Linked DNA regions of Homo sapiens. The protein of the gene in region 2 interacts with the protein of the main gene of each other region in a pairwise test. Each region holds a gene or a part of one and is shown on either strand. Other genes may lie near its edges.

Evidence for each region.
Region 1: the proteins of RAPGEF4 (region 2) and SSB interact in binary tests that used the Homo sapiens proteins (3 or more experiments, as listed by UniProt).

What each region holds. Positions count from the first base shown.
Region 1 is NC_000002.12:169,808,585-169,812,579, reverse strand, and holds the end of SSB (lupus La protein), read right to left. Parts: intron 3,721-3,995; coding exon 3,678-3,720; intron 2,298-3,677; coding exon 2,157-2,297; intron 1,723-2,156; coding exon 1,536-1,722; intron 1,398-1,535; coding exon 1,257-1,397; intron 913-1,256; coding exon 824-912; 3' UTR 761-823; coding exon of another isoform or gene 722-760; 3' UTR 516-721; downstream 1-515. Other genes in the region: rRNA N(6)-adenosine-methyltransferase METTL5, read left to right, coding at 74-123, 722-760. UniProt on the Homo sapiens protein: Binds to the 3' poly(U) terminus of nascent RNA polymerase III transcripts, protecting them from exonuclease digestion and facilitating their folding and maturation.
Region 2 is NC_000002.12:172,738,632-172,745,932, forward strand, and holds part of RAPGEF4 (rap guanine nucleotide exchange factor 4), read left to right. Parts: intron 1-7,301.

The DNA.
Region 1 (3,995 bases), 2.9 Mb from region 2:
TTGTTGTTGTTTAGTCAAGGGTGGTAAACGCTTGGAAATACAATTTTATCCTTAGGTGGCTTTTGTTTTACAGAACTTCGATATGACCTGCCAGCATCATACAAGTTTCACAAAAAGAAATCAGTAAGTCTCTTGATTTTGGCTGGTCTACATTCGGTATTGAAAAGCTTTCTGGGCCGGATGTGGTGGTTCATGCCTGTAATCCCAGCTACTCGGGAGGCTGAGGCAAGAGAATCGCTTGAACTCAGGAGGCAGAGGTTGCAGTGAGCTGAGATTGCCCCACTGAACTCCAGCCTGCGCGATAAGAGTGAGACTCAGTCTCGAAAAAGAAAAAAAAAGGAAAGCTTTGTGACAAGTAATTATTTCTAGTGTTACCAACTTTCCTGTGTAAATATACAAAGCCAGCCTAGGAGACACCATAAATGGCCTGTGGGAAAGGCCCATCGTCAATAGCTAATATTCTAGTTCTTTCCTAAATGCTTTGGGTACAAAAAGAAAAAAAAAATCAAAAACTGTTTTTGCTCTTTTCATATAGTATATATTTTATTAGTTAGTTTGTACTAATACATTCTCATATTACAAAGGCAATTTAATGGAAGAATCTTCCTTTTGATATTTGAATCATCTGAAATAACACAAACAGAACAATACATTCAAAGAAATCTCATTTGCATAACAAAAAGACAAGTTAAACAACAAAAAAATTTTTCCTTTCTCACAGGTGGACATTGAAGTGGACCTAATTCGGTTTTCCTTTTAAAAGCCCCGCAAACAAAAGTCGTTTAAAACCTATTTAAAATGAATAAAAAATTGGTTTACTAAACTACTGGTCTCCAGCACCATTTTCTGTTTTCTGTTGTTTGGATGCAGGTTCTTCTTTGTCTGTTTCTTCTCTTGCTCTTTTCACAGGTCCTATAACGTAACAATTAATTTTTGTTAAATTCAACGTAAGTACTGCTCTAGTTTAATACTGAGCACAATTACTAATAATGATACTGTTGAAAAAGATGCAACAACTTCCTTGCACCAATGAGAAAAGGCTTTTCTCTTAGTACAGACCTGACCTCTAGATTCATCTTCCAAATATCCTGTCCCTGACTTATACAACAGCATAACCGAGGTAAATCGTTAATAATCCAAGAATGGCACTTATCCAGGAGTTGAAAAGCCAAATCCCTATTCTCTCTGGCAAATCATTTATTTATGGAAGTAGAAATTTTCTCATGAAACTACCAAAGGACTTAAAAAAAACTTACCAGTTGCACCATTTTCATCATGTTCATCATGTTCATCATCACTAGCAAATTTCGTTTTCTTGCCCTGAAACTGTACTTTTCCTTTACCAGACCCAGGCTGGGCAGCTTTATTACCCTTTCCTTTTCCTTTAAATCTACGACCTGTAGAGACACAATTGAGCACTCTGTAAAGAACTTTTTTTAAGTCTCTTGTCAATGTTTTTGAACACTGATTAAAGTTTTTGCTCAAGTAAATGGGTTCAACAACCAAACTGTTAAAGAAAAATCAGAATAAATGACCTTTTGACTTCCATTTGTTTAGGGATTCTTGTTGGTCTTCTATTATTTTCTTCAGTGCTTCTTTTTCCACCTCTCCTTCTAGTACTTCCCAAGTCACTTCTTTGTTCCTTAATTGTAGGTTACCATTATTTGCATCTTTGGCTTTACCCAATGCTTCCTTGGCTTTTTCTTTAAATAGAATTATCCCCTATACCAGAGACAGAAAACAAAAGCCATACCCTTGGTTTTTAGTCCCACAATTAATTTCTTTGTCCAAAGTAATTTTTTCTACCCTGCAAACCTTCCATGTCTTTACCAGTTTGAATGAATTTTACTGAACAGTAGAAAAGGAATGCTACAGAAGTAAAACTGCAATCATCAGTATGAACAGTTATTCATAGTATAATTCAGAAACTATCAGACATCACATATAGTGACAATAACAACAAAGTAAATGATCAAGTAGAAACTAATTTAGTATAATTCAGAAAATATCAGACATCACATCTAGTGGCAATAACAAATGATCAAGTAGAAACTAATTTAATAAACACAATTTTTAAAATTACTTTCTACTAATTTTGTCTAAGTTTCTACAGATTTTCAAACTGATTGCTAAAAAGGATAGGGATGTATCCAAACCTCTTTTGCTCCTCTGACGAAGTCTATCCATTTTATTTCACCATGATTTGAGAAAAGTATGTGTAAATCTTCTCTACAGGTCTGATCATCTAAATCACCCGAAAATTTCAGCAAGCATCCAATCTTTTCTTCTAGAGATTTCTATAAAAATATACAAAGTGATCAAAAAGTTTCTTAAAAGCAACAACAGACCAGAAATGACTCACACCACCTTATAGCTATACAAGAAAAAGACTAGAAACCAAAATGCTATTTTAAAGTAGTTTCTTCCGCCGGGGCAGCAAGAGCGAAACTCCATCTCAAAAAATAATAATAATAATAAATAAATAAAGTAGTTTCATAGTGTTGGTGTTTTCCTTTGTCATCCTTTATTCCAAAATGGCTTTCAATATTATTTGATCTCTTATACAACTGGTATTTAATTAGTTATAAACTACATAAATCTGGCTATTAAACTATCTTGGAAAATAATTCTAGGCAGTATTTATCATACTTTAAAAAATTTTTAGGCCGGGCGCAGTGGCTGACACCTGTAATCCCAGCACTTTGGGAGGCCGAGGCAGGCGGATCACCAGGTCAAGAGATCGAGAGCATCCTGGCTAACATGGTGAAACCCCGTCTCTGCTAAAAAAAAATACAAAAAATTAGCCGGACGTGGTGGCAGGCGCCTGTAGTCCCAGCTACTCGGGAGGCTGAGGCAGAAGAATGGCATGAATCTGGGAGGTGGAGCTTGCAGTGAGCCGAGATCGCGCCACTGCACTCCAGCCTGGGCAACAGTGAGACTCGGTCTCAAAAAAAGAAAAAAAAAAATTTTATAGTCATTATTTTCCCCAAATAAAAATTTTTACCTGTAACTTTCTAAATGGAAATACACATCAGTATCTTATTAAGTCAAAAATAAAAGTCATGTTAGTATTAACCTATGATTAGAATCTTTAGAAGTTATAGGACATTTTCTCATAAAAATAAGTTCTAGGCATAAATGAACTTTTTCTGAATATTTCAAAATATATTTTCCTGTGTTTTATTATATTTTTTATTTTTAAACAGGGTCTCACTCTGTCACCCAGGCTGGACTGCAGTGGCATGATCTTGGTTCACTGCAACCTCCGCCTCCTGGGTTCAAGTGATTCTCCTGCCTCAGCCTCCCACATAGCTGGGATTACAGGCATGCACCACCACGCCTGGCTAATTTTTGTATTTTTAGTCAAGATGGGGTTTCACCATATTGGCCAGGCTGGTCTCGAACTCCGTGCCTCAACTGATCTGCCCGCCTCGGCCTTCCAAAGTGCTGGGATTACAGGCGTGGGCCACTGCACCCGGCCTTTTCCATATTTTAGAACATATTTCCTATCCTTAGTTTTCTCTTTTCCCTCAATATAATACCTGATGTATTACTTAATGCAATAACAACTATAGATAGCTTTGCTTACGTATTTTCTTGAAAAAGTCCTCAGACTTAAAAGCTATTCATTTAACTTCGAATTACAGATGTACTAGATAGCAGTAATATATACTTACCATTTCAGCATCTTCTTCTAACTTTTGTTTTGCTTCTTGCTCCCTACAAATAAAAATATAATTATAACATACTTCTATTTACTATATAAGAAAATTAAGTCCTAATAAAGTTAACCAATCATGATCACTAAACTTACTTAACCAAAGCCAGAAGTCCTTAGGTTTTTTTGATCGTCCAATGCTAGACTGCAATGCAATTTGGCCCTGAGATTGTCAAGGCAGCTTAAGATCTCAGTGTTTCACTAGCAAAGAGAAAGGTCTACTGCCACTATTTCAGAGCTCACCAGCTATATTTCTGTCAGAGCTTTAAGGAATTCA
Region 2 (7,301 bases):
CTCTATTTTTATAAAATCTTTTTTATTATGGACATTTTCAACCCTGCACAAAAGAGAAAGTACAATGAACCCATGTGGGTTCACTTGGGAATATGATGCTGGGACCTTTCAACTGGGAAAAGGACGTAACTGGGAAACACAGTTCAAATATATGCCTCATTCAAGTGACAACTGTTGTGGATGGTGAAAAAAAGAGAAACCCTGGGACTGGAAATAAAAAGAGAGTTAAAAGAGAAAGTCTGCAGTAGTAAAGAAGTATACAATGAAATTTGAAGTGAAACAAAACACAAGGAAAATAGAGCCTTAAAGTGTTTGTTAGGAATGCCTAGAAAGCTATCATAGACAGGACAATATTTGCAAGTGGGGAAGGGTGTTGCAAGTGTTGTAGATATGTAGATTAGATTAAAGAAACAAAATCTATAGCTTTTTATGTATCAATCATCCACCATCTTGGACTATGGTGGGACTGAGGAGATGAGGGTCTACAAATACTAATCTTAAAACCAGAAAGACAGGACATTGAACATTTGGATGGATAAACCAACATTGAAAAAAGTCTCAGCAGATGTATTGTTAGAGTAAAACAAGCTCACCACTATCTCAGGGATCTTACCATTTTTTTCTGAGGGGATGGCAACTAGGAACAAATTACATAGTTCCCACTATTTGGGACTTAAGATAGGTAAAATGTCCTTTCTTTTTTTTTTTTAAGTGTGCTGACCATTGTTTAAGTTTTTTTGTTTTTGTTTTTGTTTTTTGAGATGGAGTCTCACTCTGTCACCCAGGCTGGAGTGCAACGGTGTGATCTTGACTCACTGCAACCTCCCCCTCCTGGTTTCAAGTAATTCTCGTGTCTCAGCCTCCCGAGTAGCTGGGATTACAGGCACACACCACCATGCCTGCCTAATTTTTGTATTTTTATAGAGACAGGGTTTCACCATGTTGGCCAGGCTGGTCTTGGACTCCTGACCTCAGCTGATCCGCTCGCCTTGGCCTCCCAAAGTGCTGGGAATACAGGTGTGAGCCACCACACCCGGCCCATTGTTTAATTTTAATGAAAATATTTTTCCCGTAAGATTTTAAATTTGCCAACTGTGAACTTCAGATCCACTTATAAGTCCTAGTTCTCAGGGTTGGTAAAGGAGTATTATGAAGGGACAGGGACCATACACATTCATGTAGTATAGCGACTCATTGCTGGCATTCATCATGATGGGACAGGCATTGACAAGCTATGGCCTGTGGGCCAGATCTGACAGCTTGCCCGTATGTCTCGTGGGCTAAGAATGGTTTTCACATTCCTGAATGGTTGGAAATAAATCAAAAGAAGATCAGTATTTTGTGACCCATGAAATTTAGATGAAATTCAAATTTCAGTGTCTATAAACAAAGTTTTATTGGAACATAGCCATGCTCATTTGGTTACATATTGTCTACAGCTGCTTTCCCGCTGCAGTGGCAGAGTTGAGTAGCTGCAATGGAGACTGTGGGCCCACAGAGCCTGAAATATTTACTATGTGGACCTTTACAGAAAAAGTTTGCCATCTTTTGTTATAGATGAAAGAACCTATCTAAGTGATTGACAGTGAAACCACTGGAGATGAAAGAAATCGTTTTCATTTGGAAAGGAGTTCACAGTGTTTGGTTTCTTGTTCTTTAATTAGAAGTATAGGTTGGAGAAAGGTTCTCAGTTGATTGGCTTATTTGAGGAACACTGGCCGTCACAGCCAAAGCAGATGATGAAGTTAACATGGTTATTCAAAAGGTTGTGATCTTTCAAAGGCAGCAGATGAATTTTTTTTAAGTATTCGTGTTTCAGTTTAAAAATACTCCATGGACAGTTTCCATCTGACTTGCCCCCAAATAGATGTTATTTTAGCTATTTTGATTAGGTTGAATTCGAGTGAAAGAAATCAAGAAACAAATTTGTTAAGAACCAAAATGCTTTGTAGCACACATGGTGAGAGAAGATAACTCAGATATCAAAGAAGCATCAGACATGGGTCCACCCTTGAGAAATGCAGAGGATCAAAGAAGCACACAGAGCAGAAAGGGGTCCCTGGAGGAGGCTAGTATCTACTAGCCATGTCCCAAGGGATGACATTACCCCGGTACATCCTCCAGGGCTCAGGCTGGTCTTGCAATCTCAGAATACTGACTTGTTAGCACATCAAAAATTAATGTATCTTTCAGCAACAGATACACAGGTACCAGACTCTCAGAGACTCTAAAAGCCAGAAAGACAGTTTATTAATTTGACAATAAGATCTGTCACATCAGAGAAGTGGACACTCACGTCCTTTGGCTAATGTATTCTTCCTCTAAGTAAGCCATATGGGAAATCCAATTATTCTCAGAAGTCCGTTTTCTGCATTTACAATGAGAAGCCAAGCTGCCAGGAGGTCAGGATGCTTACATCTTCTGGCCTGTACAGGAGTACATCCTCTTCCTAGAGCAACAGAGCCTGGGAATTGGATGATAATGAGAAGGCAGTTCTGGGAATCGTCCAGGACAGCGTGGCTGCCACCTTTTCCAGTCAGATCACCATTACCTGTGCTCTCACAGCACACTTTGGTCCCACTCTGTAATAACATAGCACAAGTCCGATTCCATTGTAATGGCCTGCTTACTTCTCTTTTCACATCACTTGACTTTAGTCCCTATATTTTATTCATCATTTTATCTTCAGCTTCAGTGCAGTGCCCTGACTAGAGAAGGTGCTAATGGGCCCAGGGCAAGATGGCCACAGGCATCCTTCTCCTCAGGGATGGTGGCCTCTGTAACCCAAAAAGGCCCTTGCACTGGGCCCTTTGCTGGGGAAGGGCGTGGGTGACACCATCCACATCTGCCTCTGTTGCTTCTTCTATGTTTTTTGGCTAATGTGAATACTTTTTTAAAAATGACACTGCATAGCTCTAATCTAATCTATTCTTCCTCCTTAAATCCTCACCCACCTTTGAAAAAAAAACTAACATCTTTTTATTGTGGAAAAAATCAAAATATACAAAAAGAAGAAATAGCAGTATGATTCTTAATTCTTTTTGTTTGTGTGTGTGTTTTTAGACAGGGTCACTCTGTCACCCAGGCTGGAAGGCAGTGGTTTGATCACAACTCACTGCATCCTTGACCTCCTGGGTTCAAACGATCCTCCTGCCTCAGCTTCCTGAGTAGCTGGGACCACAGATGTGTATCTCCATGCCTGGCTAATTTTAAAAATTTTTTGTAGAGATGGAGTCTCCCTATGTTGCCCAGGCTGGTCTCAAACTGCTGGGCTGAAGTGATCTTCCCACCTTGGCCTCCCAAAGTGCTGGGACTATAGGCTTAAGCCACTGTGCCCAGCCAGTATGATCTGTGCCACCCCTTCCCTGGCTCCAACATCATCAACTTACAGCCAACCTTGTTTTGTTTATACCTTCACGCGCTCCCCACTCCCCCCAGGATTATTTTCAAGCAAATCCCATGTATTTCATCTGTAAATATTTTAGTATATGTCTCTAAAAGGTAGTGACTTTTTATAAAGAAAACAATACCACACACATTAAACAACTTGACGTTAGTTCTCTAATATAATCAATTATTCAGTCAGTGTTCAAATGTCCCCATTTACCTCATAACTTTCTTTTTTGCAGTTTGTTTGTATCAAGAGCCAAATAAGTTGCATTTAGTTGATATGTCTATAGGTCTGGGTTCTCTCTTTCTCTCTTTTTCTTCCTTGTAATACATTTCTTGAAGAAACTGGGTTGTTGTTGTTTTTTTCAGTCTGAATTTTCATTGTACCTCCATGCAGTTTTTTAAAACATGTTCCTTTGTCCCCTGTATTTCCTGTAAATTAGTATTTGGGTCTAGAGTTTGACTTTTTGGTAAGAATGCATCACAGAAGTGTTATATATTTCCATAATGAGGTATATAATGTCAAGTGATCTCTTTTCATAATGTTAGCAATATATTGTTTTTAAAGTTTAATGCTTGGGAATTATCTATTTGCAATTTATTGGGAGACATTTCACTGTGGCCTCAAATACATGGGAGCACATGACATATATATTTGGAGTAATTTGAGAACAATACAACCTCATATGTAATTAGGGTTAAATTCTGTTGTGCTGATTTTACTTGCTTTAATCTATTAGGAAAGGAAAGTTTAGCCAGACCTGGACTCCCTCAGACTGGGGATACATGTAGGATTGGTGTGCTCAATCCACACCCTTGACCCTGCTGCCTGGTCTCCTGCATGCAGCCTGGGAGCTGGAAAGAGTCTTCAGAGGAAAAGTGGTGCTTAGCAAAGCAAATCCAGCCTCTTTGTCTTAGTTGGAGTTCTCTCAAATGGATTTCTGGCCCCTCCTGTGAGGTGGGACTGGCAGATACCTTTTGTTGGAATTTCCCATGAGCTTAGAAGATTTTATGGCCCTCTCATCGTAGCTGCTTATTGTCCTGCACCACCTCCTCACACCCCATGCAGCTAGTTTTTCTTCAGTCAGAATAAAATCACGTTTGTGCATCCTCAACAGTGGTCAATGAGAGTGGGTTTTTCCTCCAGTACTTTCACGTCACAGATGAGGGAGAGACTGCCCTAGGAGTACTGAGAGACTGAGGAAAGAGAAAGAGGATGGAAAGAACTGGGTGGGGAGGGAGACAGCGAGAGATCCAGCTGAACATCTGACAGAAAACAATCTGGCTGACGAGCGGAGGCGGACAATCCTGGTGTGTTGACTCAGCTGCATCCGTGTGCACCCTCTTGCTTCCCCTGCCCCAGAAGAAACACAAAGTGCTGCCACTACTCTCTTTTCTCTCCATGCCAGCTCTTTCTTGGCGCAACTATCTGTTTCCTTTGCTGTAACTGCTCAGATTCCTTAAACTCTGTATCTGTGGCTTATCTTCTAGACCAGATGTATTTTTGTCTGTTGGATATTCCCACATGAATATCCCATTAATATTTTGTGGGGCAGACATTGTTTTCCTTCACCTACCTCTGCTATAGAGGCTAGAAAAACAACATAGTTATTTTCCCAATCTTCCTTCAGGTGAGGTGTCCATGTGGCACTGTCTGGCCAATGAGACATAGCAGAAGTCTACAGGAGGCTTCCAGGGAAGCTCTTGCTTTACCCGTGTATTTGATTTCCCCTTCCTCTCTTCTTTCTGCCTGGAGTTACTACCCGAGGCCCGGGCCTGTGGCAGCCATCTTGTAATCCCAGGAGCAAGTGCCCAGAGAAACACAGAGCCCCCAGTTCTGACTTTGTCCACCTGCTGAACCCAGATCAGTAGTTACCCACCTTCAGATTTTTGTTTTGTGAAGAAAAAAGCCCTATTTCTCTAAAGCATTCTTTGTTTGGTGTTCTATCATTTGCCATCAAAATGATCTCTAACCTAACAGATTGATACTTGTCTAAAGTTGACCTCATCTTTTTTAGCCCTGCTCCCCATTTGTTTCTCCTTCTTGCTTTACTATTTTATTTATGATGTCATGACTTCCTCATTCTCAGAACTTTGAAGTTATCTGCATTTTCCCTTTCCTATGTCCTTTTCCACATCTAACCAGTCACTAATTGTCTTGACTTTTATTCCACTTTTATTTCAGGGCCTTAGCATCTGGATCTCCCCGTTTTCTGTTTCCAGTCTGGAAAACATGATATAGTCAAATCAGCTTTGTCTTAGGATCAGCCAGACCTGGATTCAAATTCTGTCACCTCTACCCTCTAGCTATGTGATCTTGGCCAAGTTATTAATCTTTTTGAATCTTTGTTTTCACATCTTCAAATGAGATTCCCAGTGCCTACAGTAATGGCTATGTTGAGGTGTGTGAGCTAATGCAAACGTTGCGTGGTCATCTCTAGAGAGAAAATGTAGTGTAGAGGTTAAAAATTTAGGAGTCAGACTGTATAGGCTCAAACCCCAGTTTTAATTTTATTGATGGTGTAATTTTGGGCAAGTTATTTGGTTCTAGTAGTTACTTTATAGATTCATTGGGATTTTCCCTGTAGACAATCTTGAATGTGAATACTGGTAGTTTTACTTATTCTTTCTGATTTTTATGTCTTCTATTATTTATTTTTCTTGCCTTATTGCATTTGCCAGGAATGCCAGGACAAAATTGAATAGAAGGGGTGAGAATGGATGCTCTTGTTTTGGTTATGATCTTATAAAAAATAGTTTGCTATTTTGCCACATTAGTTGTCTTTCATGTAGTTGTTTTTTTTTAGCAAATTCCCTTTTCTGAAATTATTGAGATGATTATATTATTTTTCTGTTTTATTCTGTAAATATAGTGAATTTACATTGTCTGAATTTCAAATGTTAAGCCAACCTTGCCTTCCTAGAATAGATACTACTTTGTCAACATGCATTATACTTTTTATATATTACTTTATTCAACTTACTAATATTTCATTAATGCTACTTTCATGTCAATTCATGAGGGATATTAGCCTATAACTTTCTTTTCTTATTTTAGTATCAGGATTATTCTGGCTTAATCAAGTGAATTAAGAAACATTTCCTTTTTTCCTATTTTTTCCCTCTATTTTTAAATGAACTTATATAAGATCAATGCTATTTATTTTACAAATGTCTTATAGATGTCATCTGGGCCAGGAGTTTTCTATATGAAAAGCTTTTTAATGACAAATTCAAACTGTAATAGAGGACTGTTCAGATTTTCTTTTCATGTCAGTTTTTATAGTTATTTCAAGGAGTTTGTCCATTTCATCTAAGTTATCAAATTTATTGACATAGAGTTGTTCATAGTATTCCTTATAATCCTTTTAATGCCATTAGGATATGTAGTGTTGTTCTGTCCTTTGTATCCCATATTGGTAATTTGTGTCTTTTTTTTTTAATTCATTCTTACTAGGAGCTTCCCAATTTTGTTAATATTTTAAAAGAAACAACTTTTAGTTGATTTACTGTTTTCTTTGAGAAATTTATTGATTTTTGCTCATTTTTTTTTCCTTTTTTCTCCTTACTTTGGGTTTAACTTATTCTTCTTTTTCTGGCTTCTTAAAGTGGAAACTTAGTTGGTTAATTTTAACCTTTCTTCTTTACTAATATAAGCATTTCAGCTTCAATTTCTCATTTTCAACACAAGGAAGCACAGGTATTTTTTTATTCAGTATTTGTAAACTTAAACTATTTCTGCTGGAGAAGAACAATTAATCAAGCTGATACTGGGACCTCTTGACTCCCTCAGCCTCAAGAATATACTTTGCAATGTGGTGAACAATATCCTCAACAACATTCCAACAGTGATTCAGCAGTGAGTTTCACAGGCTCTTTAAATACAGCATAATTCTAAAGAAACATTAAGA